7 linked regions of the Homo sapiens genome follow. The protein of the gene in region 4 purifies or fractionates together with the protein of the main gene of each other region. This does not show direct contact. Each region holds a gene or a part of one and is shown on either strand. Other genes may lie near its edges. The genes, in order: ROBO1, TUBGCP3, SLC25A46, CMKLR1, SACM1L, KIDINS220 and TVP23C.

What was found.
Region 1: the proteins of CMKLR1 (region 4) and ROBO1 purify together in Homo sapiens (co-immunoprecipitation; 2 studies listed by BioGRID and IntAct, with this or other methods). This does not show direct contact.
Region 2: the proteins of CMKLR1 (region 4) and TUBGCP3 purify together in Homo sapiens (affinity purification with mass spectrometry; one large-scale study listed by BioGRID and IntAct). This does not show direct contact.
Region 3: the proteins of CMKLR1 (region 4) and SLC25A46 purify together in Homo sapiens (affinity purification with mass spectrometry; one large-scale study listed by BioGRID and IntAct). This does not show direct contact.
Region 5: the proteins of CMKLR1 (region 4) and SACM1L purify together in Homo sapiens (co-immunoprecipitation; 2 studies listed by BioGRID and IntAct, with this or other methods). This does not show direct contact.
Region 6: the proteins of CMKLR1 (region 4) and KIDINS220 purify together in Homo sapiens (affinity purification with mass spectrometry; one large-scale study listed by BioGRID and IntAct). This does not show direct contact.
Region 7: the proteins of CMKLR1 (region 4) and TVP23C purify together in Homo sapiens (affinity purification with mass spectrometry, with the first as the bait; one large-scale study listed by BioGRID). This does not show direct contact.

Annotation. Positions count from the first base shown.
Region 1 is NC_000003.12:79,760,997-79,765,131, reverse strand, and holds part of ROBO1 (roundabout homolog 1 isoform a precursor), read left to right. Parts: intron 1-4,135. UniProt on the Homo sapiens protein: Receptor for SLIT1 and SLIT2 that mediates cellular responses to molecular guidance cues in cellular migration, including axonal navigation at the ventral midline of the neural tube and projection of axons to different regions during neuronal development.
Region 2 is NC_000013.11:112,549,756-112,553,890, forward strand, and holds part of TUBGCP3 (gamma-tubulin complex component 3), read right to left. Parts: intron 1-4,135. UniProt on the Homo sapiens protein: Component of the gamma-tubulin ring complex (gTuRC) which mediates microtubule nucleation.
Region 3 is NC_000005.10:110,748,796-110,752,930, forward strand, and holds part of SLC25A46 (mitochondrial outer membrane protein SLC25A46), read left to right. Parts: intron 1-4,135. UniProt on the Homo sapiens protein: Transmembrane protein of the mitochondrial outer membrane that controls mitochondrial organization.
Region 4 is NC_000012.12:108,332,195-108,336,329, reverse strand, and holds part of CMKLR1 (chemerin-like receptor 1), read left to right. Parts: intron 1-4,135. UniProt on the Homo sapiens protein: Receptor for the chemoattractant adipokine chemerin/RARRES2 and for the omega-3 fatty acid derived molecule resolvin E1.
Region 5 is NC_000003.12:45,737,496-45,741,630, forward strand, and holds part of SACM1L (phosphatidylinositol-3-phosphatase SAC1), read left to right. Parts: intron 1-87; coding exon 88-157; intron 158-276; coding exon 277-349; intron 350-1,082; coding exon 1,083-1,176; intron 1,177-1,285; coding exon 1,286-1,378; intron 1,379-2,091; coding exon 2,092-2,149; intron 2,150-4,135.
Region 6 is NC_000002.12:8,827,164-8,831,298, reverse strand, and holds part of KIDINS220 (kinase D-interacting substrate of 220 kDa), read left to right. Parts: intron 1-4,135. UniProt on the Homo sapiens protein: Promotes a prolonged MAP-kinase signaling by neurotrophins through activation of a Rap1-dependent mechanism. Provides a docking site for the CRKL-C3G complex, resulting in Rap1-dependent sustained ERK activation.
Region 7 is NC_000017.11:15,542,743-15,546,877, reverse strand, and holds part of TVP23C (Golgi apparatus membrane protein TVP23 homolog C), read left to right. Parts: intron 1-961; coding exon 962-1,093; intron 1,094-4,135. Other genes in the region: TVP23C-CDRT4 (uncharacterized protein LOC100533496), read left to right, coding at 962-1,093.

The sequences.
Region 1 (4,135 bases), on a different chromosome or scaffold from region 4:
CCTGGTGGAGCCTTGCTTCAGAAAACAGCTGTTAATCACATGTTTGTTGTATTTTCCTATTTACTTCCTTTTACTTCCCTTCGCTTCCCTTAGCCTGTCCTTGAACCAGTGTTACCATCTTCTGGGCTCTACTCTATGAAGGTTAGTGATTTCCAGTGATATAGCACTGAGCTGAGCATGGGAGGAGGGGAGAGACTCAACAGCTGCCTAGGGAGTCCCAAAGGTTTAATGCCAACTTTCTCTTACCCTATACTGCACAAAATAAAGAACAAATACCCTAATATCTCCCCAAAGAGAACTGCATTGTTCTGTATAATTTTCTTTTATCTTATAACATAGTAGAATCAATTCAAATACAAAATAACATTGACCAGAGATGAAAAGGAAGCTATACACTTGTGTGCACTATTTGGAAAGTAGTGTTGTGCTTAGCTATAAAATCTCACTTTTTGGCCTTCATCTATACTTAATACATTAGGAACTACTTTTATTTAAGCAAGATTTAATGTATTACTTTCATTACAAAGCTGAGAAACTCTAGACACCACAAAGATGTGAATTTTAAATGAAAAAAAGCAAGGCAGTAAAGTAAGCCCCTGGCAGCTTGATGAATGAGCAGGTGCAATGCACCATTTGAAATGTATCTTGAGGTGAGCTTCCACCAATCTGCTGGAGAATGAGCTCCTTCTTGCCACCTAAACTCAACTGATTTTCCTCTTTCTGAGACCACAGACAAAAACATGATAGCATACAATAGGCTAGATTATGACCTGGTCACATAATCATTTATCTCTCTAAACTTGCTGTTGAAGTGAGCAATGTTACTGTTAATGTATTCATATTTGTACCTAAAATATATTAGTGCCAATTCTCCTAATTCTATAGGAAATTGAGGTCCTAGAAGGCTAACTGACTAATTCAAAACTACATAGGATAAAACTGTAGAAACAGTGTTAGTCACCGTACCTGCAATAGATATTTCACTTAATCCCCACATAACCCTTTCAAAGTAGGCTTTATTAGATGTCTACAACACATGAAGAGAATGAAGCTCAGAGAGTTTAAGGAAAATAGACATGACTATTCAGCCAAAAAGGGGCAGAGCCAGGATTAAAAACAAGTTCTTTCTCATGACAGAGTACATGCTTTTCTAGTATGTCATACTGCTGCTTTTAAGGGAGCCATTCTCTTCAGTTAACTGGACCTACCTATTTTCCCCCATATTTAAACAAGGAGTTTGATTATTCCTTGAATTTTATTTTAGTACTCATAATTTTTTAATCTCCTTGATATCTTTTTCATGTCCAAAGCATTATCTGCATTTCTCCAAGAGCAAACTTTTACAGTTACTTTCCAAGGATCTCATAAACAGTAAATAACTTTTTCAGAAAATATACCCCACCCCTATCTGCCACCCTGCCTGTATCATCTCTGGGGGTCAGAGCACTTGGGGAAAACTGAGGGGCTTTCCATTTTCTTTGAAATTTGTGCATATGTAGCCAGGATGCCTGCTAAGGATCCAGTACGTCAGTTTCAGCCAGTTGTTCTTTTCTGCCTTTCCATTTCTGCACACGTGTCTTCTCTAATCTGCAAAATTATCTTCTTCATTTGGCCAAACCCTATCCATTTGTCTAGGGTGGTTCATGTTCCTTCTCCACCATAAAATTTTTCTTATTATTCCAACCCTATTGCTGTTCCTTACCTCTGAAATTCCAAGTAATTTCCAATAACATCTGCTGTCTAATTTGGTCTTTATTCAGGGATTAAGAGGAGTAAGCTAACATTTTTTGAGCCTTTACCTTATATACTTTTACATACATTATCCATCAACTATAAATTTCTATTTCTTCATTATATTTCTGCATTTTGCCCTTATTATTTTTTCGCACTCGATAGTCACCCAGATGTTGTGATACATTTCCGGAGTTTCAGTAATGACATTCAAATTTTATATTTCTTGTCCATGCATTGCTCCTGATTGTCATACCTATATTTCCAAAGATCTAATTTCATCTCCACCTAGAAATGCATCACAAGCATTTTAAAGGAAACTGTCCTAAAGGAAAGCATTCAAAGCCACAGGTATCATCCTCCCTGCCACACTTGCTTATCTCTTTAGATTTCCAAGTGGTAAATAGCACATCATGCATCAAGACACATTCCTCTTTGCTATGTCCCTCTGCCTCATTCCCTATGATCATGTAGTGAAAAGAAAAAAAAAATTATGATTTTTCTCTTGAACTTCACCTCTTCTCCTCATGGGCCTGCCCTCCAATTCTTACTTCCACTTCCTGGGATCAGCCATTTGAAGTCATGTGCAACAAGTTTGGCGAGCTATCTGTCAGGGCAAAAATGACAATTTCTAAACTCCTTAGTCATTGAAGGTACTCTGTGATATGAAGCATGAATTCTTCTTTTCAGTCTTCAGAATTATCAATTACTATGAAAATTTACTTGCATTTTCTTAAACACTCAGGATGTTTCATTCCTCTCGGCTTTTGTGTGTGTGTGTGTGTGTGTGTTTGTCCAGAATTCTGCCCCAAATGGTTCTCACTTTCTTATTTTTTTAGCGATGTTTGAAAACACAAAACAAGTGTCACTTCTTCTGTGAAGACCTTCATGTTAAGAAAATAGGTTTAAGTATTCCTCCCTTTCTGATCATTTAATAATGCCTCTGAAATTCCATTGTAATCATTTATTCGTTTCTACTATGAGACTGCGCTATGTTCTGAATGCTGTGTCTTCTCCAAATTCATATGCTGAAATTAAAATTAGGAAGTGGGGCCTTTGGGAGATGACTAGACCATGAAAGCAGAGCCCTCAGGAATGGAATTAGTGCCCTTATAAAAGAGGTCTGAGTAAGCTCTCTTGCCCCTTCCCCCCCGACTAAACATAAGAAGATGGCTGTCTATGAAGCAGAAAGTGGGTCCTCCCCAGACACCAAATCTTCCAGCGCCTTGATATTGGACTTTCCAGCCTCTAAAACTATGAGAAAAGCATTTCTATTGTTTACAAGGCACCTATTCCATAGCACTTTGTTGTAGCACCCTAAAGATACTAAGACAGACTCTAAATTCTGTGAAGCAGTATGTCTCAAACTTTGTCCATTGAACCAAATAAATCTTAAAAGTGAAAAAAGTAGCCCTTAAAACACCAGTCCCAGGATCCCCCATCAGAATTACTACAATAGAATATATGGGGGTGGGGCACTTGAGTCCACATATTAACAGAATCTATTCCAGGTGTAACTAGGAACAGGGAGTTTATCACAACAATTGCTCTCCAATTCAGTCAGATCAATATGGCACTTAATTTAGCATTTGGGGGAGGAGCCATTTGCAAAGCTTTTTAGATCTTATTTTGTGTCTTCCCAGATTACCGTGCTTCAGAGAAAGATTTGCTTAGAGTATAGTAAATTAGATCACATGAGTCACTCTTACTGAAGTACAAGAGTCCTGCATCAGAAAGGCAGATTTGCCAAGAGCAGAATTTCAGTAATCACATGTGAACATGGCATTTAGAGTTGAGGTGCTGCTGTGCAGAGTACTTGGAGCTTTTAATGACTCTGACTTTTTATTATTATGACAAGTTTGATTAGCAGACACAAAAATGAGTGAAACAAGTTCCCTTGAATTACCACCCAGGTTAAGTAATAAAAGATTAAATGTAATATTGAAGTTTTCTGGGTACTCTTCCAGATTGAATCTCCCTTCTAAGAGGTAACCAGTGTGGTAAATTTGCTGTTATTATTTCTATGCATTTTCTCTTGAGTTTACTGTATATATTACATATTTAATTCATATATAGTATTGTCTTAAGTAAATAAAATATTAGCCTAAATTGTCAAATATTGTTTGCATTCTTGGAAATATTTTTTTATGATTAATTCAAGTTGCTTCGGGTACAGTTACTTTATTCATATTCATTGCAATATAGTGTTCTATAAATACTATAAGTATATACATATATTATATTTTTAAATATATTATTATTATATATTTAGTAGGTATGGTAAAAATATATAGTATATTTTATATATAGTACATATATTTCATATATAATATAGTGCATATATATTATAGTATATATACAGTATTAAAATATGTATTATATTTTATGTTTTTCTCTCTCATTT
Region 2 (4,135 bases), on a different chromosome or scaffold from region 4:
AAGGCGGGCGGATCACGAGGCCAGGAGATCGAGACCATCCTGGCTAACATGGTGAGACCCCTGTCTCTACTAAAAATACCAAAAATTAGCCGGGCGTGTTGGCGGGTGCCTGTGGTCCCAGCTACTCAGGAGGCTGAGGCAGGAGAATGGCTTGAACACAGGAGGCGGGGCTTGCAGTGAGCCAAGATCACAACACTGCACTTCAGCCTGGGCGACAGGGTGAGACTCCATCTCAAAAAAAAAAAAAAAAAAAAAAAAAAATACTGAAAGGAGTCAGGTCAAAACAACAGGAATCAGAAGCTAGAAGAGGCACCCTGATACACCTGCATCCAGTCCTGTGGCAAGAGCCTTCAGGGATGAGCTGTGGGATGTAACTCCAGGATGCCTGGGGGCAGCTCTGCTGTTCAAGGAGCCCACAGCAGAAGCAGCCTGCAAGGGATAAACCTGTGTTCTTTCTCATTCAGTTTTATCCAGCAAAACTCCATCAAAAAATTTTTTTTAATTGTTTTTTAAACTTGTTTTCTTTAAGTAAATATGTAGGTTGCATACCTTTCTGTATATTTTTAAAATATATCAGCAGTCACCTATAGGTGTATTTTACTGCATTTATGGTTTGTGGACTAAGACAAATGTGAACATTTTCAAGTATGAAAATGAACATAAAACATACTAATTTTGTAGACACAAAAGGACACGTCAAAAGTGAGGTGTGCAAGAAGAAACGTCCTAGAGTCTGGAATGAGACAGACCAGGGGGTAAAAATCCAGGGCTCCCGCTGGAGGTACCGCCACGTGTCAGCCCCTGACGGTATGAACCTCTAGGCTCATCTACAAAGGGAGGAAGAATAAATGCGGTAACGTAGGGCAAGCGCCTGGCACAGTGTGGGCACAAAGGTGCTTACTAAACCATAGGTCAGTTTTCTTAGGTAATATTTACAGAGAAAACGACATGGAATCTGCTCAGGCACAGCATCACTCTTTACCAAAACTCCATCCCAGCCCCAGGGCAGGAGAGCAGACACATAAACACATCAAAGCTTTGAAAAACCTGCTGAAATATGCGGCCAGGTGCGGTGGCTCACGCCTGTAATCTCATCACTTTGGGAGGCCAAGGCGGGCAGATCATGAGGTCAGGAGATTAAGACCATCCTGGCTAACACAGTGAAACCCCGTCTCTATTAAAAATACAAAAAAATTAGCCGGGCGTGGTGGTGGGTGCCTGTGGTTCCGGCTACTCGGGAGGCTGAGGAAGGAGAATGGCGTGAACATGGGAGGCGGAGCTTGCAGTGAGCCGAGATCGCGCCACTGCACTCCAGCCTGGGTGACAGAGCGAGACGACTCCGTCTCAAAAAAAAAACAAAAACAAAACCTGCTGAAATAATCAAATCATTATCCAACGTGTAGAATCTAAGTATTTATATACAGGTGTATGTGAGTCAGCTTCTGAGAAGTCTACAACCAAAAGAGTGGAAGTGCAGGCAGAGCGCGGCAGCGCCACACACACTCAGAGGGAAAAGGCCTGTGGTTAGCAGAGGCTGTTTCCACCTTGGTTCATTAAATGCACATGTAAGTTTCACACTTACAAAACAGTATCTTCATTCATATATGATTTTGCTCCATTTGGTATGTCTAGAGCCAGGACACCTCCAAGGCTAATTGTGGGCACTGGTAATACTGACACAGGACATAAATTATGCAAGGCATAAATTAGGGCACACGGTCACCCCACTGAGAGCACACGCTGGCTCTTCAAATAAGATAAATAAACCATCACTCCTTCAGCAACTGGATGGCACCAAGCAATGACTCCAAACAGCAGGAAATGGAAGAACAGAGACAGCTTTGGAACAGAGTGACACGTCACACCCTAGTCCATACCTGCCATCTACTAGTCAGGGCAACTTGGTCAAATCAATCAAACTTGCTGAGGTTCAATTCTCACATCTGCAAAATGGGGACAATTAATGCTTGCCCTGATCATTTTAGAAGGCTGCTATGATAATCGATAAGGAGAAAGAAGATAAAAGAAGAGCCTCTAAAGTCCAGTACTATAAACAGCAGTCCCCGACCTTTTTGGCACCAGGGACTGGTTTTGTGGAAGACATTTTTTCCACGGACCAGGGTGGGATGGGGGGGCAGAGTGGTTTTGGGATAAAACTGTTCCCACCTCAGATAATCAGACATTAGATTCTCATACGAAGCATGCAACCTAGATCCCTTGAATGCACGGTTCACAACAGGGATCACACTCCTATGAAACTAATGCCATCACTGATCTGACAGGAGGCAGAGCTCAGGCGGTCATGCCTGCTCGCCCTCCACTCACCTCCTGCCGTGCGGCCCAGTTCCTAACAGGCCATGAACCAGTACCGGTCCACAGTCCAGGAACTGGGGACCCCTGCTATAAAACATAATATGATACTACTATAGTGATGATCAATCCATCTCCTGGAATAAAATATCTACATAATGGTTTAGTTATCCTGTATTGATTTTGTGTGTGTGTTTTGCTTCATGTCTATCAAGTTGACTGGGACCTATCAGTGACACTTGCATAAGATGATGATATAAACCCAGACATGATAAAACACTCCCTTCGGGAAAAGGGACAGGGACTCTAAAATTACAGCTGGCTCCTGAGGGGACGGCCCACCAGTCCTACCTGCCTCGAGAAAGAGCCAGCTCACTCCTATCTGCCCTTGCAATGAGGGAGAGTGGTGGCTGGTCATCGAGCAATTCACTAGACTGGCAAACAGAACAGAAAACAGTACTAGACTGGGAAGCAGCATCTTTATACGCATTCTCTCCCCACCTTCACAATCCTAGAGGTAATCACTACCCCACTCTATGCAGGAAGAAACTTGTGGCCAACAGAAGATAACCTGGGCAAGATGACGTGACCATTACAGGAGAAGCCCAAACCAGAACCCTGGGCTGCCTCGCTTCAAAGCTCAAAGTGTGATGCCTACTCAGCAGCCACGCTGCCACAGCACACTCCTCCCCACCAGCCACGCTCCTCCCCACCAGCCACGCTCTTCCCCATCAGCCATGCTCCTACTCAGCAGCCACACTGCCACAGCACACTCCTCCCCACCAGCCACGCTCCTCCCCACCAGCCACGCTCTTCCCCATCAGCCATGCTCCTACTCAGCAGCCACGCTGCCACAGCACACTCCTCCCCACCAGCCATGCTCCTACTCACCAGCCACACTGCCACACTACTCGCCTACTCACCAGCCACACATTCTTACCCACCACCCACACTCCTCCTCACTAGCCACATTCCCAACCACCGGCCATGCTCCTACTCCCAGCCACGTTCTTACCCACCAGCCATGCTCCTCCCCACCAGCCACACTGCCACACCACATGCCTAATCACCAGCCATGTTCTTACCCACTAGCCACACTGCCACACCAAGTGCCTACTCACCAGCCACATTCTTACCCACCGGCCACGTTCCTGCCCACCAGCCACACTACAGCACCACACTCCTCCCCACCAGCCATGCTCTTCTCCATCAGTCACGCTCCTACTCACCAGCCACCCTCCTACCCACCAGCTACGCTGCCATAAGTCCTGTGCTACGCTGAGCTTATAGTACACAGTTGTTCTGTGATTCAATAATTTTTGGAGATTTCATTGGCAGTAATTACTGCCCAATAATCAACCTATGGACAAGACCACATGCTGCTTAGCCACAAAGAAGGGCTGGACAGTGGAGATGCCACGGCTCCTATTAGCTGCCCCCTGTCAGGCTCCAACAGGAGGAGAAGCAGCAGCAGCTCCCTCCCAACCATGCACTGTGCCATCGGCAGTGCCCACCCAGGGCTGTCCAGACAGCCATAGCCAGGATTCCCATCTCCAGCTTCGGCAGTGTTCCCAAATCCTGCCTCACCGTGCTGCCTGGGGAATCACGCAGCTGGGAGTGTCCCCTGTTGGCAGGCCCCGTCCCAGCAGGGCCCCTCCTCAACCTTCTGGAGGAGGCAGCAGCAGCTGGGCAGGGCCCCCTTCGAGCGTTTGGAATCGGGCAATGCCAGCTCCCCATGGCCAGCTCTGTCTCACCATTTTCTCTGTATTTTACAGTCCTCCAGCAGTTCCTGAGCCAACCTGCTGTATTCAGTGTCCTCATCAGC
Region 3 (4,135 bases), on a different chromosome or scaffold from region 4:
TCTTATGTTTGGAATATTGGGTATGTATGAAATTGAATATCAGGAAAAGAAGCTGAGGTGCTACATTAAAATACGATTGTGCCTTTTTAAGTTTATTCTCTATGGGTTTGGAATGTGTTTCTTTTTTTAATATATAGATGTTCTGATCAAGATATATTCAAATGGCAGTATAAAATAAATGGAGTTGTATAGACAGATTTATGGAGATCTATTGTAATAATCTAGGCGAGGCTGAGAAGGTTCTGAACTGTGGAACAGAACAGAAAGGGATGAGCTGGCTAGACATTTCTGAAGTATAGTCGATGGTCATTATGTTAGCTTGGTAATTGGAGATAGGAGAGAATGAGTTGTCAGTAGTGACTGAGATTTCTAGATTGGAAAATGTTAACCAAGATGGAGAATTCAAGAAGAAGAAAAAGTTGGAGTAGGGAAGAAGATAAAGAATTTATCTTTCAATAAATGAAGTTTGAGATTCTTGCAAGACATTGAGGGAGAGGGACATGTCTCATATTTGGTTGGAACCATGGATCAGAGTAAAAAAAAAAAAATAGAAAATTGAAGCACAGGGAGAGCTTTGGGTATTGTGGCATAAAAGTAGCAGCTGAAGCTTAGGATAGATGAAATCACCTAAGGAGAAAGCATAGATTAAATGAATAAAATGGACCAAGGACAGAATCCTAGGCATACATGTGTGCCGTGTGTGTGTGGGAGCGGTGGGAAGGGGGGTAGTTGGGGGAGATAATGAGAGAAATTAGAGAGGGCCTCAGACAAATTGGAAATAGCATAAGATGTAGGACAATCATGTTCTAGAAACCAAAAATGGGAGAATTAGAAGTGTAGATACATTTGAGAGAGAGGGTAGAGAAATTAGGGAAATTTGCTTTTGGGTCTCTCTTTTCTCTGTGAAGCAGGATACAGGGTTATTTGGTGAAAAAATGATAAGCATTGGGGTTGTAGTAGAAAAGCATGAGAGGAATGATACACATTTGGGACAGTCACAATGATGGGTAACAAAGGAATCTTACAAAGAGTATATGAAAGGAATGTTAATAGGTAATATTGGAAATTAGAAATTTTTAAGGTGCTATTTGGCATTACTCTGATTTTCTATATCAGCACTATATTTTTGTATATCATCCTATCGATAATGTTAAAGGCTTTGGAATGGTTTGTTAATCCAAATTTATTCTCTGGCAAGGTGAATTTTTTGCATTGTTAAAGAAGTGAGATAGTTGAAGGCATAGCTACTAGTGTAACGCATATGCCCAATGTTGGGATTTAGTCCTTACAGGGAAGGAAATGAAAGCAAGAGAAACTGATAGTAAGCTTTTTTCCAATGTGATTGCTTTTGAAGGACCTCGTAGTCTTGAAGTGCCTTAAATAAACTTTGCTAAAACGTTTGAAACAAAACAAAGATTAGAAAGGTCAGCAACATTTGGGCAGCTCAGAGTTTCTTGTTTTATTCTTTAAAAATCTGTATTTCGTTGTTTGGCTAACTATTCACTTTATTGCTTTTATATCACTAGATAAGATCCCAAGTTAGTACTTATAGTCAAATATTCTTGAAATTCTTTAACAAACAATTCTGTAAAAAAATAACAAAATGCAGGAAATTCCATTTGGTAGAGTGAAAAAAATTCAATGCAGTTGTTCCTCATATCTGTAGGGGATTGATTCCAGGACCCCCAGTGGATACCAAAATCCAGAGATGCTTAAGTCCCTTTTATAAAATGGTGTTGTATTTGCATACAACCTGTACATAACCTCCTGTATACTTTAAATCATTTCTTGATTCCTTGTAATACCAAATACAATGTAAATGCTATGTAAATAGTTGTTATTCTATATTGTTTAGGGAATAATGACAAGAAAGAAAAAAACTCTGTACACATTCAGTACAGATGCAACTATCCCTTTTTTAAATAAATATTGTAAATCCGTAGTTGCCTGAATCCATGTATGTGGAACCCATGGATATGGAGGGTTGACTATATTTGCAACCAGAACACTATTGGTTCAGGTCCTGGCTATTCCACTTTTTATTTCTGGGACCTTATGCAAGTAATGTTGCCTCTCTAAAGCAGAGATGAAGGAATAACATTAATTTCAGGCTACAGGGAAGAAAAAAGAAAAATAGGAATGGGAAGGCATAGGACTTTATAAAATTTTATCATCTAACTTTCTTACTCAGTAGACAGACATGTCAACTGAGTGGGAATATATTTTCATCATTTTGAATCTTTCCAAAGAAGACAAAATAGTAACCTCTATTGCATTGTTCTACTTGGATAATTTTGGTGATAAGGCCCACTCATTAATTCATTCATTTACTTGGCTAACATTTCCTGAGTACTTACTATGTGCCAGGTTCTGTGCTAAAAACCGGGTTTACAGTGAGGAAAATAAACAAAAGGTAACTGTTGCCAGGAAGCTCAGAATCTAATAAAAGTACATTCACTAAGAACAATAATTCCATTAATGAATAATTGCAAATTGAAATTTGTTTTCTGAAGCAAAAGAATATAGTTCCATGAAAGTATTAAAGGGCTAGAAACAGTGTCCCTAGTAACATGACACTTAAGGTAGATCAGAGTGGTAATTAGGAGGTACATACCAGTTTGTACAAAAATGCTGTTGCAGTGGGGAGCCTAGAGAATTCAGGTGTAACTGAGAGAAGCCTCACATGGCTGGAGCTCTGGCCAAGGGTAAGGGTACAGAGCAGGTGGGAGCCAGAACATGTGTGGCCCTGTAGGCCATTTTAAGAATATTGAAGAGGTTCAGTAAGGTCAGTGACATCAGATTTGTTTTCAAAGGGTCATTGTAACTGTAGATGAAAAGGTTGTATGAGGACCAAAGTGAATAAAAGGAGACATCTTAGTATTCTATTACAATAATAAAGGTAAGAAAAGATAGTGGCTAAGATCAGGGTGGTATCTTTTGAGATAGAGGTAAGTGGACAGTTTTGAAATATACTTAGGTCAAACTGAGGGAATTTGGTGATGCTTTAGGAATGGTAGATCAAAGAGAAGGCAGTATGAAGAATGACTTCTTGTATTTGGGCTTGTGTAACTAGTTGTCAAATGAAGCTGTTTTTTTGAAGTATAGTGTGAATATCTTTTAAAAAATTATTTATTCTTCTTTGGGCAGATTTGACCTTTCCTATTAATGGGAAGAAGGCAGAGTTTGTTTCTGTATCCTATTAATGGGAAGAAGGAGCAAACAAGGTCACAAAACATTAACAGCAGTTCACAGAAGCTACTACATGAGGAGGATGAGCTCTGAGGTCTCCTAGCCTGGGGTTTTTTAATTGCGTAACATTTACTAGGTAGAACAGGGGAGATAGTACAGATTTGCCAATATTTAGGGGTTTTTAAATACAGTTTATGATCAAATCAAAGAGAAAAACAGCAGATCTCTAGTGTTCATTAAGTCAGCAAATTTATAATTTCTCAGTAGTATTACTTTTTAACAAATTATATATTAGCCAGGATCGTCATGTGTGATCTCTTTAGCAGTAGATACTGCTAAACCCTTCCCTGTTCTCTCTCCCAGTTGCAGTGAGTTAAACCATGTGTCGTTCTACCCCCACAGTACCCTTTACTTAATTTACATGTGGCTTTTTTCAGACTGTTAACGCGAGGTAGGAGTTCCTGTAACCAAGGCTACCTGTGTGGTTCAGTCTCTCACAAAACCCATTTGGTTCAACTCCAACTTAGTTTTGACTCATCACACATCTGTGGTTATACCACTGTAAACATCTTGTAGTTTTCCTCCAACGGTTCCCTCCGAATTTGCTTATTTTAAACACACGTTATTTTAAACACAATGAAATCTTCCTCAAATTCAATAGATTTCCTTTCTGATTAATAGTTCCTGAGTAGGGAACACTGAAAGAGTTTAAGTAGAAAAGAAAGATTTTAAGTTGGACTTTAGTACAAGTGCATTTTCAGATCTTTTATCATATCCAGATGGAGTTGTCTGTAGGCACATGATATGGGGCTGGCATATAAAGAATTCTTAACTGAAGGTAAATTAATTTGGGAGATTTTGAAGCTCTAACCCTAGATATGAGCGTCGCTAGGGAAGAAGGATACACTATGGTAGAAGAATAGAGTCTGAACCTTAGGAACTCCAA
Region 4 (4,135 bases):
TGTGATCCACCCACCTCGGCCTCCAAAAGTGCTGGGATTACAGGCGTGAGCCACTGCGCCCGGCCAATTGTGAGTGTTTCTTAAAGCTTCAGTTTGGAAATCAGAATCTCTGTGGATGAGGCTTCAGTGTCTGCATGTTGAACCAGCACCCCAGGTCATTCAGATGCACCCCAAAACTTGAGAACTACCAACCTAGAGTGCTTAAAAGTCTTTCCTTTTTGCCCTTTGTTCACACTGGGGTCTTGGGTTCTTTGCTGCACAATAAGGTTTCTTTTTTCCCTTCTAAGCAAATATTCATGTACTTCTGTGAATCCACATGTTCCGTGTCAGCAGTTGAGGCCAGAAGGTTTGGCAGAGAAGAAGCGAAACTTTGTCTTATAGTACCACAGAAAGTCAGATCGTGTTAGCAATCCCCCAGCATGGAGGCTTTGAAATTATTTTCAGTTGCAGAATCCTTTCCACAAATGAAAGTCTTATGGGGAAGTGTAATTTGAAAACAGATAAAGGTGGTGTTATTCTTGTTGAAACAGAGGTGGAAGACTCCAGGCTGCCACTAAATCTCACTCTTGTTGCTGAAGGGCCTCTAAGAATCTTTGTAGCTCCATGGGGCAGGCAGGAAACTGCAACTCCTCTACTCCAAGGAGTTAAGAGACCAAAGTTCTAGACATTTGTTGAGCTTACTGTGTGACCTTGGCAAGGCACTCTTACTCTTTGGCCACAATAATTTCATCTGTAAATAAGGAGGTCGAATGGTATATCAGCTAGGGTAGTAGCTGCAGTAACAAATAGGTCCCCAAAGGCATAAGGGCTGAAGCAAAGCAGAGCTTTATTATAAGGCAAGTATTTCTGAATGGAGGGTGGTCCTCTTCCTCATGGTACTTCAGTGACTCATCTGGTGGTCCCACTCTCTCCTCAGATATCCTCATTGTCTGCAGCCAGGTGCACAAGACAAAAGAAAGTATGGAGGTGGCATATTTGCTTATCTGCTTTGGCCTGGAAGCAGCAGACATGACTTCCACTCACATGAGAACTATCATGTGGCCAATCTAGTTGCAAAGGAGGCCAGGACATGGAGTTACAAGGATATGAGGTTCTTGGCAAAGAGCAGCTCTTTCCCAGCCACAGTCGTGTATTGTGGACAGGGAGAATGAATTTTTGTGGACAGCTACCTGTCTCTGTCACAAATGTGGTGACCTCTTGGGTTGCTTCCATTCTTTGATTCTAAGTCTACATTTCCATTAGTCAATCTTAGTTAACATGGTGATGTTGGACTCACAACATCACCTATCCTCAAGGTAATTCCCATCAAATATACTAAGTAAATTTCCAGACTCCAGGCCCCTAAACATGGATTTTTCTGAAACATAGGCAACTGCCATTCTCTTTTCCCCCTGGAAAAAGGAAATAAGAATAATGGTTTGATAGAACATGCTGCGGGTTATTAAGCCAAAGGTATTTATATCCATTATCTACTTGAATCTCCCTACAAGCCTACATGGAAAGGCCTCAGGACTATCATCCCCATTTTATAGGTGAATAAAATGAGGCTCAGAGAGCTAAAGGGACTTGCCTAAGGTCACACAGCTCATAGCAAAAGAATGGGATTTGAACGAAAAACATCTTATTCCTGTCCTAGGGCCCCACTGCACATTTGAATGTTGGTGTTCATGTACGTGTACATGGTGTGGTTAGAGTCGGGATTTTCCTTGGGCTGGGCTCCCCCAGGGCTGGGCATGAGGGAAGTGAAAGCTCAGGAATCATGCTCAAACTCCCCAGAATGGGCCAAGGCTGCTGACTGTAAGGCAGCTGGGTGGTTGTCCTAGGTCCTGGGGTGAAGAAGTACAGTGTGACCAAGTATTACAGCCACTGGCTGTGTAAAAGAGAAGGGACAGTGCATGAGGGTGTTGTGTGGTCCTGGAAGACACTGAGGCTTCAACTGGGCTGGCCACATAGTGGGTGCCTGGGAGCACTTTCCTGTGTGAATAAATGCATGTGGGAGTAACAGCTGCAGCACTGTGAGAAAATGAGATGAATCAGACCTGCTTCCTGTCTTTGAGGCCCTCAGGGGAGGAGAGACAAACTTGTAACATATACTTTTATTAATTCACTCAACAAACATTTATTAGCATCTACTACACGTCTGGCTCTCCACAGGGCAAGAACGATGGAAAGACAGGATTCCTATCCTTGTGGAACCCATTTGAGAGATGAGGAAAGTGAGGCCCTGATTGGTTACGTGACATTCCCAAGATCATTTGGCCAGATTAGGACTTGAAACACCTGGCTTCCAGCCCAGCACTTTTTCCATAGCCCCTGCTGAGGAGGTGGCCGTAGGCCAGGACTGAGATGCAGTGAGGAGCCCCTGTTATTGGCAGCCACTTTGAGCTGCCGCCGGACTCAGGACATGCTGGTTTCAGGCGATAGCACGAAACCAGTTATTTCTTTTTAGAACCTCTAGATTTTTGCAGCAATGGACACAGGTATGAATGAGAAAAAGTAGAAATCCTTGCACTGTCAGATGGAATCAAGAGGCAGTAATTCTACGTGGTGCTATCAGAGAAAGAAATGTTGACGTCTGGGTGACGTTGGCTGGTAGCACACTGTGGTGATGATAGATCCCAGATCCAAGTGCTCCAGAGTTGAGATCCCAGCTCTGAACTTTAACCTCCTGAGCCCCTCAGCTTCCTCATTCATAAGGTGGGCATGCTATGAGTACCTGCCTGTCAGGGTTATGGTGAGATTAAATGAGTCCATATCCATCAAGCACTGAGTACAGCACGTGGTCAGTTCAGTGAAGGCATTTCTATTTTTATTTTTGGGACAGTGAGCTTTGAAATTGGCCTTTGCACATCTGGGTGTCTGGTGCCTTGTGATCTTGGGTTCCCAGACTGGAAAATGTCATTTGGGCTAGTCTCTTGCCTCCATGTCTGGCCCCAAGGAGAGGTCTTGGGCTCTGCTGGTGGAGAGTGCCCTGGGCCTCACTGTCTTCACCATAGACAGTCTCTGGCAATGTTGGAAGTACCAGCGGCTGACTCAGCAGGGAGGTCAGCTGCTATCCAGGCAGAATGTCAGAATCGGTTCTGCTTTCTTGGGGTATAGGACATGGGTCCTCAGATTCCAGCCCTGGGTTCCTGCTGAGGGCAGCTCTTGTGCAAGGAGGTGGGTGGGTGGGGAGATGGGTACAAAAAACAACAGTGAGCACACTTGGTTTTTCCTCCTGGAAATCAGGGGTCAGAGAAACAGGAAGTCAATGGAGAGAGGGTGTGGTGTAGTGAGAAGAGGGCAGGCCCTGTGGTCTGGCAGATGTGAGTTCTAATCCTGGGTTTGACACCTATTGATTTATTTTTTATTTTTTGAGACAAAATCTCATTCTGTCACCCAGGCTGGAGTGTAGTGACATGATCACAGCTCATTTGCAGCCTCGACCTCTGGGGCTTAAGTAATCCTCCCACCTCCTGAGTAGGTGGGACTATAGGCATGCATTACCATGTCTGGCTAGTTTTTGTATTTTTTGTAGAGACAGGATGTATTAGTCAGGGTTCTCTTAGAGGGTTCTCTTACGGTTCACTCTCTACATATAAAAAGGGGGAGCTTATTAAGTATTAATTTACATGATCACAAGGTCACACAATAGGCCATCTGCAAGGAGAATCAGTCTGAGTCCCAAAACTGGAGAACTTGGAATCCGATGTTCGAGGGCAAGAAGCATCCAGCATGGTAGAAAGATGTAGGCTGGGAGGCTAGGCCGGTCTCTCCTTTTCAGGTTTTTCTGCCTGCTTTATAGTCTCTGGAAGCTAATTAGATTGTGCCCACCGGAGTAAGGGTGGATCTGCCTTCCCCAGCCCACTGACTCAAATGTTAATCTCTTTTGGCAACACCCACACAGACACATGCAGGATTAATACTTATTATATTTTAATCCAATCAAGTTGACACTCAGTATTAACCATCACACAGGGTCTCACCACATTGCCCAAGCTGGTCTTGAACTCCTGGACTCAAGTGATTCACCTGCCTTGGCCTCCCAAAGTGCTAGGATTGCAGGCATGAGCCACCGCATGTTTTTGCGGTGAGCCCGGCCACCTATTGTTTTTGTGAGCATGTGCAAGTCACATACATATAACCTCTTTAGGCC
Region 5 (4,135 bases), on a different chromosome or scaffold from region 4:
GATAAAATTTGGGGACTGCTTTTTCTTCCTAAACCATGTCTGCTAAAATCTATTACACATAAATCTGGGTGTGGTTTTTTATTCCAGAGACTAGGAGTTTTGCATGTGGGACAAAAGCTTGAAGAACAAGATGAATTTGAGAAGATTTACAAAAATGGTAGGTCATTTCTTTAATATAGACAAAGTTGGTCAGATTTTGAAATAAATTAATATTCTGGATTTAGAACTTTGTTTGTCATCTTAATAATTATCAGCTGTTTTTACTTTTTTCTACAGCCTGGGCTGACAACGCAAATGCTTGTGCCAAGCAATATGCGGGAACTGGTGCCTTGAAGACTGACTTTACCAGGCAAGCCATGCTTTTAAAATAGCATTCCACATCAGTAGTTCACAGTCCTGGTGCTTTTAAAAATCACCTGGGCAGCTTTCAGACAGCAGCAGCAACAACAGCAAGACTCCAGCATCTGGGCCTCACTTGAGACCTGTGGAGTCAGGATTTCTGGGAAGTGAGGCCCGGGTACTGGTGTGTTCTTAGCCACCCTGGGAGATTCTGATGCTTGGGGAGGGTTGAGAGCCACCGCTCCACAGTGCTCCTCAGACCTTACCGTGTACCTGAAGCACCAGTCTTGAGATGTGCTCTAAAAAGCACCCAGGTGATGCTGATGCTGCTTTCAAAGACTGCACTGAGTAATGAGGACATTAATGAGAACATTTTGAATGTATTATGCATGCAGTGGCTCTTTTTCTGCTATGTGGGTTCCCTGGGAGCAGAATAAGATTTCTAGTCTGTTTGCTTTGCTGTGTCCTACCACTTAACCTGGGCTATGTATTTCTCTTCATATTTCTTGTCTTTGCAACTGGAATTAGTGTGTTTCTTTGTGCCTCCTTTGGTAATATTTTAGAAAGAAAATAGGTATTTCTTGGACCTACAAGTGATTTCTTTTGTGAAGTATCTGTATTTTCAGGGATAGTTTTTAAAATCTGTCACTCACTTATTTCTATACCTTATGCTTATTGGCCATAAAACAGTGTGAGAATTCAGTGTACAAACCTGTAACTTAAAATTTAACCTCTTTAACCAGAACTGGAAAGAGAACTCATTTGGGACTTATAATGGATGGCTGGAACTCAATGATACGATATTATAAGAACAACTTTTCCGATGGATTTAGACAAGTAAGTTTGTATTTGATGCTTTCCTGGCATTACGTGGTTGTATCTTTGCATTGTTCATCACTAATGTTATCTCACACTGAGTTTACGAATTTCTTCCTTTCTGTTCTAGGATTCCATAGACTTATTTCTTGGAAACTATTCAGTGGATGAATTAGAATCTCATAGTCCTTTAAGTGTTCCAAGGGACTGGAAATTCCTGGCTGTAAGAAACCATTTTGTATTTTTCAAGTTTTTAAAAGCATTGTGTCTGAAGGTATAGATGGTTTCAGTCTCAATTTAAAACGTTATATGTGGTTTTATATTTCATTACATGAAATATAAATACTTAAGTTTTCCAAAGAGGTCAGGCTGAGGAGTACAGTAACTGTGGAGCATTTGTTTTCTTTTCCTCAGACTCTCACACATCCTTTTCATGTGAAGTAACATAAGCAAAGGGAATGTGGAAGCTTTCTCATTTCAGGAAAACTTCAATTCTCTTACATTGAGGGAATTGCCAGAGACAAACGTGTTACATGGAAGGCAAAGTTTATTTTTGATGCTTCTCTCCTTTTTGACTCCTCTGTTCACCAGACCCTGCAAGAGCCGCTCTGGATTTTCTTTCCAGTGTGTCAAGTGCTCTGGAATGGAAGGGAGGCCTAGTGTTCTAGGTCCTCATCTGGGCATCCTCCTTCCATTTAGCACCCTTTGGCTTGGAGCAAAAGCATGCTTCTTCCGATCTTACCACATCCCCCATCTAAAGTCTAGGGCAGTTGTGATTGAACCCATAAATAATAATGTTTTGTTGACAAAAGATATTAGCTGTGTATTAGCTGACAGATGAGTTTTATTCTTTTCCCAAGCAATGCATGCACAACTGATTTTGCTGCCATTGATTAGCATTCTTAAATGATGATCTCTTTCTATTGTCTTTTCCAGTTGCCTATTATCATGGTTGTTGCCTTTTCAATGTGCATTATCTGTTTGCTTATGGCTGGTAAGTCTGCTCCACACATTTGTTTCTTAGTTAGAATGTTGACCTTTCTTTTACAACATCTTAAGTTTTTGAGTTCACCGAACACTTGATGTTTCCCTATTAAATTTAATGGGTAAAGTGGATGTGACATTAGATTGTCATTAGATGTGACAGGAAGAAAAATAACATACCTAGTAGTTTGATGGTTGTCGTTTTTTTTAACCTCAGATTTTAAAAACATGTTTTTCTTATTACTGTAAACCAATGAGTGTCTGAGACAGGTCTCAGTCAGTTTAGAGGCTTAATTTGCCAAGGTTGAGGACCTGCCCAGGAAAAAGAGACACAAGATACAGTAGGATCAGTATCTTGTGCTTTTTCCAAAGAGGGTTTTAAGGACTTCAGTATTAAATGGGGAAAGAGTGTACAGGAGAGGAAGGAGGAATGGAAACAAAAGGGGAGGGTAGGTAGTAAGATAAGTGGTCACATTCTTGTGAGGCTTTGATTAGCACTCACTGAATCCATGTTACATGTGAAAGGACGGGGTAGAGGAACAGTCAATTATGCATTCATCTCCTGCTCAGTAAATCTGCATTTTATGTAAGACAAAGTAAACATAGAGTAGATAAAGAAGTCAGATCTGCATTTGTTTTGGGGTGGGCGGAGGGATGATTTTCTAGTCTTGTCTTTGTCCCATACCTGTGAAAATAAACTGTTAATTTACATTGTCAGGGTGAGGGAGATTCAACAGGACTGTCTTTTAGGGTAAAGATTTTGGGGCCCACAAGGAATTTGCTTGTGACAGTTTGTGAGGGTGGCCATCTGTGAGGATATGTGGCCCACTATCTTTGCAGCTGTCTACTTAGGAACAAAAGGAGGGTAGTTTTGTGAGACTCAGTTCCCAAGTTTAACTTTTTCCTTTGGCATAGTAAATTTGGAGTCCTGAGATTTTATTTTCCTTTCACATTACCAAAGTAATACATAGTAATTATAGAAAGCACACGTAGGCAGAAAAGGAGAAAATATTATTTATCATCATACCTTTGAGAGAGAAGCTAACCACTCTTAACATTTTGATGTTTTAATCTTTATAAGTGTCTGTGATTTTTTTTCAAAAGTGAGATACGTATTTTCATTATCTGCTTTTTTTCACTGAGCAGTATGTTTTCCCATGTTCTTAATTGCTAATGGCTGCAAAGTATTCCATTTATGGATGTATAGTTTAACCAACTCAAATAAATGTTAATGGATTAAGATATTACTTATCATTACATTTTAAAGGTTGAGAGTAAAATTGCCTGAGAACCTGAGGAGACAAGGTCTTTACTGGTTTTCTTTTTTCTCTTAATATTTTGCTATGTTACTGAGTTAATAAAGCATTTAAGATTAAAGTGAGAAGAATGTATTCTTTATTCTCCTTTGAGTAATGTCCTGTAATTTGGAGGTTTGAGTCTGAGACTTGGTGTATTGGACGTTGGAGATGCAATCCTAGTCACTCTGAAAGAAGAGGCACCTTCCAGCCTTCATCCTCTATCCTGAATTCGTTGAGCCAACCTCTCTCTGCCTGTCTGAATTCCACCATCCTCAGGGCACCATTCATATGCTCCCCTCTCACAGAGTGTCTCTCCCACACAGAAGTCTTCACCTTCTGTCTGGATTTCCACAGCACTCCTGGTCCTCTCTCCCAGCACTTTCCTCTTTTAACCTCATTAATACATAGGGAGTTATTTTTCAGAGGTGGTATACCTCTTTGGTGTACCTGACATACCCAGTGTGTATTTCTTTTTGGATGGTAATGATTTGCATACTTGTTTGTTTTTTTCACTGGATCAGCAACTTTTTGAAGGTAAAGACTGTGTCTTACTCATTGTTTTATCTCCTTTGTCCAGGATATAGTGAGCCCTCAGTAAATGTTTGCTGAATTAAGGACTCACTCCACCACCACCACTAATTCTGTCACCTTTTTGATAGGGAGGCTCAGTTACCTGTTCATCTCTGTATTCCCCTCAG
Region 6 (4,135 bases), on a different chromosome or scaffold from region 4:
AGATAAGGCTGGAATGGTAAGATGGGGCCAGATTGTGAAGAATCTGCATGCCCTCATCATAATCAAGAATTGAACTTACTGAGTTTTCACTCTGCTCAGTGGAGAGCAAAGCTTTCCGTAGGAATTGTGTATTTGCATCTTTACAATGGCTTTAAAAGCCTTAGAAGGCGTAAGTTCCTTGAATAACTTGTAAGTAGTAAAGCTGTCATCTGTCCTCCCAACCTTGGTTTTAGGAGAGATGTATTGTAGGTCACTCTTGCTTCAGTGTGGCAAATGGATTGCAGGTGGCAGGCCTGGAGAGAGGAGGCAAAAGTTGCTAGCCTGTCACATTGATCTGGGTGAGAGATGGTGTAGTAGAAGTTTTTAGGATTGATGCCTAGATCACAACTGTTTACTCTTTTCTGGAAACAGTGCCAATATGGTGTGACCTTGTAACCCCCTCCCAACTTTGTGTCTCTAGTTGCTTGGTTCTGGGTGTGCAACAGATCCAGCCTGGGCAGTCAGAGCCCTTTTCTGGGACTGTTGGATCTGGGAACAAAGAATAGCCTGCTTTCTCTGGTGTTAGAGACTATCTGATTTAGGCCAGGTGCGGTGGCTCACACCTGTAATCCCAACACTTTGGGAGGCAGAGGCAGGCGCATCACTTGAGCCCAGGAGTTTGAGACCAGCCTGGGCAACATGGTGAAACTTCATTTCTACAAAAAATAGAAAAATTAGCTGGGCATGGTGGTGTGCACCTGTAGTCCCAACTACTCAGGAGGCTGAGGTGGGAGGATCGCTTGAGCCCTAGAGGTCAAGGCTGCAGTGAGCCATGATCGTGCTACTGCACTCCAGTCTGAGTGACAGAGTGAGACCCTGTCTCAAAAAATAAATAAACGATCTGATTTGAGGCTGGATGGCTGTGGGAAGCCATATTTCCCTTTGTGTAGAAGTAGTTGGTCTAGAAGGAAAGTAGATTAAGCCAGTAGAGAAAGAGAATCCTCCTGGCATTTGAGGTCCAGTGGCACCCACTCTTCCTGTAGTGTGGTTATGGGAAATAAACCATTATCCTTCAAATACATTTTTCTGTTTTGCTTAAGCTAGTTTAAATTAGTCTCTTGCAACCTTAGGGGTCTTGATTAGTATAGATGGTGAAGGTCTAAACTAAGGCACTGAGTGTGGGGTTGGGTGATCTCACACTTTAGGGGGTAAACTGGATGAAAAATGGTAGCTGTGTGACTCAGAGGGAGATGGGTGCCTTGGTAGAGTAGAGATGAGGATGGTGTTCTACATGGAAGGAGCACATTGAGCATAGGCGGGAGTGTGGAGCAGCACTGGGGGAGTGTGGTGAATTTGAGTTCTTCTGCTTGGCTGGGCTGTGGGGTGAGCTGGGGCTGGTATAGAGGGAGAGCCAGATCCTGCAAACCTCACTGAGGCCTTAGGCTTGATCCTAGAAGGAGTGGGAATAAATGAAGGTAGGTGTTGGTGATGACTGCTAATACAAACCCTCACTGCTTTCTAATGATAGAAGCATCACATTCCAGAACATGTAGGAGATAAAGGTTTTAAAGAAAATAAAAATTACACTAATGCCCATCACCATTTGTTCTTTTTTTATTTCCAGTATTTAAAAATGTATACATTTAAAATAGCTGAGATGCTGTATATATAGCTCTTAATCTTTTACCTCACTTCTTCTATCATGAGCATTTTTCTGTAACACATTTTTTGAGACATTTTGATGACTGTATATTATCCTACTTTGTGAATTTTTATAATTTATATAATATCCATTTCTAAGATTTTTGTTCTTATGGATAAAATTGTTTTACTTAAAATCTTAAAATTTTGTTCATGTTTCTCATGTTTTTAGAATAATTCCTAGAAGTGCAACTATGGGATCAAATAACATCATTTTTTAAAATAATAGTTTTTCACCCCAAGAGTATAAATTCAAGTTGTTCTGAATATATACTCCCTAAAAGTAAGGTATACTGATTTATACTTTACATGTAATAACATTCACCCTTTTTAATGGACAGTTCTGAATTTTGACAAACGAATGATTGTGTAACTGCCACAACAGTCAAGATATAGAACAGCCATTAACTCGCCAAATTCTCTTGTACTCTTTTGTAGCCATCTCATTCCCCTGCCTTAGACCCTGGCAGCCCCGATCTGTTTTCTGCCCCTGCAGTTTTCCTTTTCCAGAATGCTATATAAGTAGAATCATATAGTGCTATAGTTTCTGCCCTCTGGCCCCCAGAGATAGATTTCCTTCCTGTGTCAAAACATATTCACTCCATCGCAAGGCCTCCCCAAAAGTCTCAGTTCATTTCAGCATCAACCCAAAGTCCACAGTCTCATTTAAATCTCATCATCTAAATCAGGTATGAGAGGGTCTGGGTGTAGTCCATCCAGAGGCATGATTCCTTTCCACCTGGGAAACGCAAGAATCAAGTTATCTGCTCCAACTTAGAGTTAGGGAATGGGCATGGGATATCAGTTATAGACAGTCCTGTTCAAGGGTGGAGGAAAAGGAAGGCAAAGAGGATTCACCAGTCCCAAATAATTTCATTTTCATAACAGCCAAAGTTTTCAATTTTGACGAACTCTGGTTTATCAGTTTTCTTTTTTTATGCACCATGCTTTTAGTGTTATATCAAATCTTTCTTAATCTAAGGTCACTGAAGTCATCTATATTTTCTTCTAGAAGTTTTGTACTTTCAGACATTATATTTAGGTCAATTTTGAGTTAGCACCTGTATGTGGTACAAAGTATGGATTGAGGTTTATTTATTTGCATTTGGATGTCCAGTTGAATATAATAAAATTTCTACTCTTTTAGAACTTATAGTTATGGTAGACAGACAATAAGTGAACAATATGTCATTTTTTGGATGGTGGCAAGTGGTGTGGAGAGCAGTGAAAGCAGGACAAAGGGTTGAGAGTGCAGGGTGACAGTGAAGCCTGTGTGGGGTCGGTACCCTGACATCCCACATCCGGTGAGACTTTGTAACCAGGTGACCTGACGGGGTCAGGGGGTAAGCCGTGTGCATGTCCTGTGGAAGAGAATTTTAGGCAGACAGAAAAGTAGCACAGAGGCCTGGCGAGGTGGGACGGTGCTCAGTGTGGCCATGCAGCCAGGAGGGTGAGAGGGGGTGGTAGGAGCTACAGTCACAGGTGTCACACAGGTGAGAGGCTTGCCACTGAAGAGTTATCTTGGCCAAGGTAAAAACATTTGATTTTACTTTGAGCACCCCGAGAAGCCCTTAGAGGGCTTTGAATAAAAGAGGCCATGCTCTGACTTAGTACTGCTCACATTGTGGTTCTTCCTCAGTGTTGTCAGTGTCACAGGGAGCTGGATAAAGATGCAGAGTCAGGGGCCCCACTCAGACCTGCTGAGTCAGAATCTCTGACGGTGGGGCCCAGGAATCTGCTTTAAAAGCTCTTCAGGTGATTCTGATATATGTTAAAGTTTTAAAAAAAGTAATGTAATTTTAATTGACAAATTATATATATTTAGGGGTACAATGTGATGTTTTGATACATGTATCCATTGTGGAATGATCAAATCAGGCTAATTAACATATTCATCACCTCCCATACTTAATTATTTATTTGCAGTGAGACCATTTAAAATCCACTCTTCCAGGTAAAGTGGAGGCAGGGAGGCCAGTTAGGAAGCGATGATAGTGACGCAGGTGAGTCACGGTGGCTCGTCCAGGGTGGCAGTGATGAAGTGGTGAGTAGTAGTCAGATGTGAAATGTATTTTACAGGTAGAGCCAAAAGCATTTGCTAATAGATTGAGTGTAGGGTGTAAGAGGAAGAGGTAAGTCATGAACAATTTCAATGCTTTTGGCCTTGGAAGAATGGACCTGGAGCTGCCGTTTACTGGCATGGTGACAGCAGGAGGAGCAGGGGAGCATTTTGGAGTGGTGATGAGGAGGGTTTGGGGATGGATGTGGAGTTTGGTGTTTGGATAAGTTAAGATGGAGGTGAGTGTGAACCTAAGAGACATCACGGCAGCTTTTTGACACCTGAGCTATGGAAGCCGTGGGAAGTCGTATCTTCACTTCTGCCACTGGAGGTGTCCTTGCATGAGGTTAATGTTAAGAAGGATATTGTATTTAATAGTAACTTAATTTTTTCTAA
Region 7 (4,135 bases), on a different chromosome or scaffold from region 4:
ACAAGCAATATACGAACAGAATCCTTTGAGGGAAGACACTGGGTCTGAGTTCATACAGTGTGCTAAGCTGCCTGTCAGGGATTGCTGATAAAAGATCTCTGTGTTGCCTTTGTTAGTGTCTCCATAAATCCCTCTATGCTCAGCAGATAACTGCTTTTAACATCTTGTTCTGTCTTTGCTCCTGTGGTCGTCTTTCATTTCTGGGCAGGAAAAAGGAGGAGGAGTGCAGCTGGATAGAATATCTGATTGGAGCACTCTATTCCTAAGCTTCTGCCTTCAGGAGCCCTGGGGATCCTGGTCTGTTTTGGGTTAGCCTGCTACACTATAGTGAATATTCACTTTCCTTGTGGAAATAAGTTTTGGAAGCAGAGGACCAAATTCTTGGCGACAGTACACCAAGGGTATTGACAAGTTATTTTAAGAAAGTGGCACTGTGTTCAATGAGCCTGTATTCCTTTATATTATGGAATCTACCTTGGAAACAACTTACCACCCTTGTAAATTCCTGGGTATTGCTAAGACATTTTGATTATTGTCCAGAATCCCTTGATTCCGTTTTTTTTTTCCCCTCTGGACCCTAATTTGACCTTTTAGTCTCCAGAATGATTATAACTGTGATTTCCTTGATCATTGGTCAGAAAGGTATCATTTAGAGCTTCCTTATGAATAAATAGTACAAGTGCAAGAAGAATTGAATAGAAGCCTATCAGAGACCACTCTTTACTGTCATGAGTTGTGGTAAACCATCCATCCTGCCCTGAAAATGCAAAATTCTTGAGTTAATATAGATCAGTTCCTAAAATTACGAGAGTGATAGTCATGTATTTTTGGGTTCTAACTTAGGAGTTGGGCTATGTGTATTAATATTTGAACTTGTGGGTAATATGTTTTTTATTAAATATGTTGAACTTTTTATTGATAAATTTCACAACATGATAATTGAATTTATGTTCTTTTATAGGAGTCCTCTCAAGAGAATAAAACTGTGTCAGAGGCTGAATCAAGAATCTTTTGGTTGGGACTTATTGCCTGTTCAGTACTGTGGGTGATATTTGCCTTTAGTGCACTCTTCTCCTTCACAGTAAAGTGGCTGGTGAGTATCAGTGTAGAACTTTCAAATAATCCATTAAGATGTCTGATGGTAATCATAGGAAGCAACAACTGCAACTGAGTCCTTATCATTAGGGACCTATCTTGAATAGGCAGCTTCATCATGTAATTCCCAAGTTTTGCTTCCCAACTTTACCTTTCTCTATAATACTGGAGAAGAGATCCTAAAAAACCCCTTCCCACCAGTTTTCTAGGATATTAGTGGTCTTTTCTGGAAATAATGGTTGGTAATCTGTTTTGGTTACCTATTGCTGCCTAACAAATCACCCCAAAACATAGTGGCTTAGAGCAACAACAGCCATTATCTCACAGTTTCTATGGGTCAGGATCTTGGGAAGGGCTCTGCTGGGAGATTCTGGCTTGGGGTCTTGAGTAGTTGTAGTCAGACAGTAGTTGGAATGATGGGGGTTGTGAGCCATCTCCTCTTCATGAGGTCCCATGGCCTCTCCACATGTTTTTCCATGTGCCTTGGTTTGGGCTTCCTCATGGCATGGTGGCCTCATGGTGGTGGGACTGCTTACGTGGCAGCCCAGTACTTCACTTGTGGGGTGTTCTAGCTCACAAGCTTTTACAATCTAGCCTAAGATGTCATAGCATTGCTTCTGCTGCCCACTCACATTCAAGGAAATGGGAATTAGGCTCTACTCTTGATAAGGAATAAGAAGGTGCTAGAAGACTTTGTGGAAGAGGAGATATTGTTGCTGCTGTCTTTGGAAAATATAGTTTGTCACTTGACCCAATTTGTGAGTCTTACTCTTTTTTATATCTCATATTGTTTTTTCTTATTCTATCTTATATCTGATATGAATAAATATTGTGTGAATTTTCACACAATATTTATTGATATCAGATATATTTTGGCCTTAATTATGTTTTTCCTCCTAATTTGTAGTATTTTCTTAGTCCTATTTTGTGATATAGATTCTTTTTTTCTTTGTGTGTGCTCATACATTCATACTTTCCTTCTTTGGATTTGGAAGCTTATTGGAAGCTTATTGTCTTTTTTCAGTTCTTCTGGTAGTTACCTTTAATTACTTTATATGTTATATCATTACCCTCTTTCATGAATTAGGAAATGTATTCAGTATTTATGGAGTTCCTGCTCTGGAAAATGGGAAACTTTACGCTAATATGGTTTCTTTAACTTCTCCCTCCTCCTACCTCTAGAGTTTTGCTTATTATAGTCTTATTTTAGTCCTTCTAGTGGTTTTCTTTGTAACATTAATTAATGTACTTAAACCTGTTTATTGACTTAATAGACTCTGTTTAGAAAGGGAAGAAAATAAACACTCATATTCCTTCCTATGAGTTTCCTCCTTTCTCTCTTGTTTGTTCCAATGTTATTTTTGTGTTACCAAGTTTTATAATAGTTATCTTTTGAAAACATATTTCTTACTGGTTGTTCAGTCTTTGATCTGTTTTTTAAAAAAGTCAATTCATTGCCTATCACCAGTCTTATTGCAGCTTCTCCTTTTACTTATTGGTTGGCTACATTTTCTTTTGACTCATGTTTAAACATATGAGCCTATTGACTATTCTTAAATGATGACCTGGCTGGATTAATATTCTTGGGTCACAGTTTGTTTCTTTTTGGAGGATGCTATTCCATCATTTTCTTTCACTGAATATCTTGGAGAAGTCTGAGGCCAGGCTTACTTAACCTTTGTAATCTCTCCTCATAAGGTGTTTTTTTTTTTAGTTCATGTAACCCAGATGTATTTGTATTTATCTTTCCATATCAAGTTTTCTGGAGTCTGTGCCTTTCTGACAGGCAGACTAAAGTTTTGCTTGGAATCAGGAAAATTTTTTCTGTTAAATCTTTGCATTTATTTATGTTCTATGGTTTGACCTTTTATTTTGAAGTACCAGTTACGTTTATGTTGGATCATTTTTATTTGTTTTCATCTACTATTTTCTTGTTGCTTTAATTATTCATCTTTTCCTTATTTATTCAGCAATTTTAAGAGTTCACTCTTATGTCAGAGCTGTCTGGGGACACAGGGGGACAAGTTAGGGGACAGTAAACAAGTTGACTGCTCCAGTAGAGCTTATGTTCTAGTGGAAGGTAGATAAACAGTAAAAAATACAGTAGGGGATGTTAGTTAATGATACAAAGTAATGGGGTAGAGAGTGCAGAGGAGAGAACAGTAACTATTTTAAGTGCTCAGCTAAGGCTTCTCTCTGTATTTCCTTAGCTTTGTCAGCTCCATTTTCATCTCCTGTTATCTCACCCTCATGCTTTTTGAGTTCTTTTCTTTAGGTTTTTCTGTAGGGTGAAATAGTCCCAGGAATGCTTTTATTTTGGTGGGTTTTTTTTCTTTTCGAGTAGATTCTTCACCTATCTTCTGTATACTATGCTTCTTTTTTCTTTTTTCGCTATAGTTTTGCATAAATGCACTTCCCTTTTTCCTTATCCATTTTGCTTATCCTTACAGTGACAGTCCTGTCCAGCCCTTCTCTTTCTGCTGGTTTAGTGCGGGTGAATCCCCCTTGACCACCTTCTCCTGATGTCTGAGGCACGTGGCTGCTGCTCTGAGCTGGAGTTGCAGTGCTGGGTTTGGTAGCCTGAAGGCACAGGTGTGATGTGCGATGTGGAGAACTTACCAGGCTCTTGCTGTCTTGGCTGGGCTGCCTGGTTTTGCGTTCTCTTCCTTAGTGGGGCTCTTGTCTGCTGGTTGGCTGTGCACTCTCTTCTGGTTCTTCCCTTCTGCTTTGGATTGTTTGTAAGACCTTAGAGCTTTAGCATCCATCCAAGAGAGTGAGCCCAGTCTTTTTCTAGCAGTGTTTCTACTTCCTTAAAACAAAACAGGGAGAGGTTATGTGAAAGCCAGTTTGATCCTGTGTTAACCTACTTATGCCTAGTGTTCCATTATTGGAACGCTAAGCATGTAGGAGTTATTTATATCCTACTGCTCAAGGTAATCACCAAGGTCTGATTTTTCACTCATGCAAAAATTCACAAAATTGCAGCCTACAGCATAAATGGGTTAAGACCTTGGCATGGTGGCTCATGCCTGTAATCCCA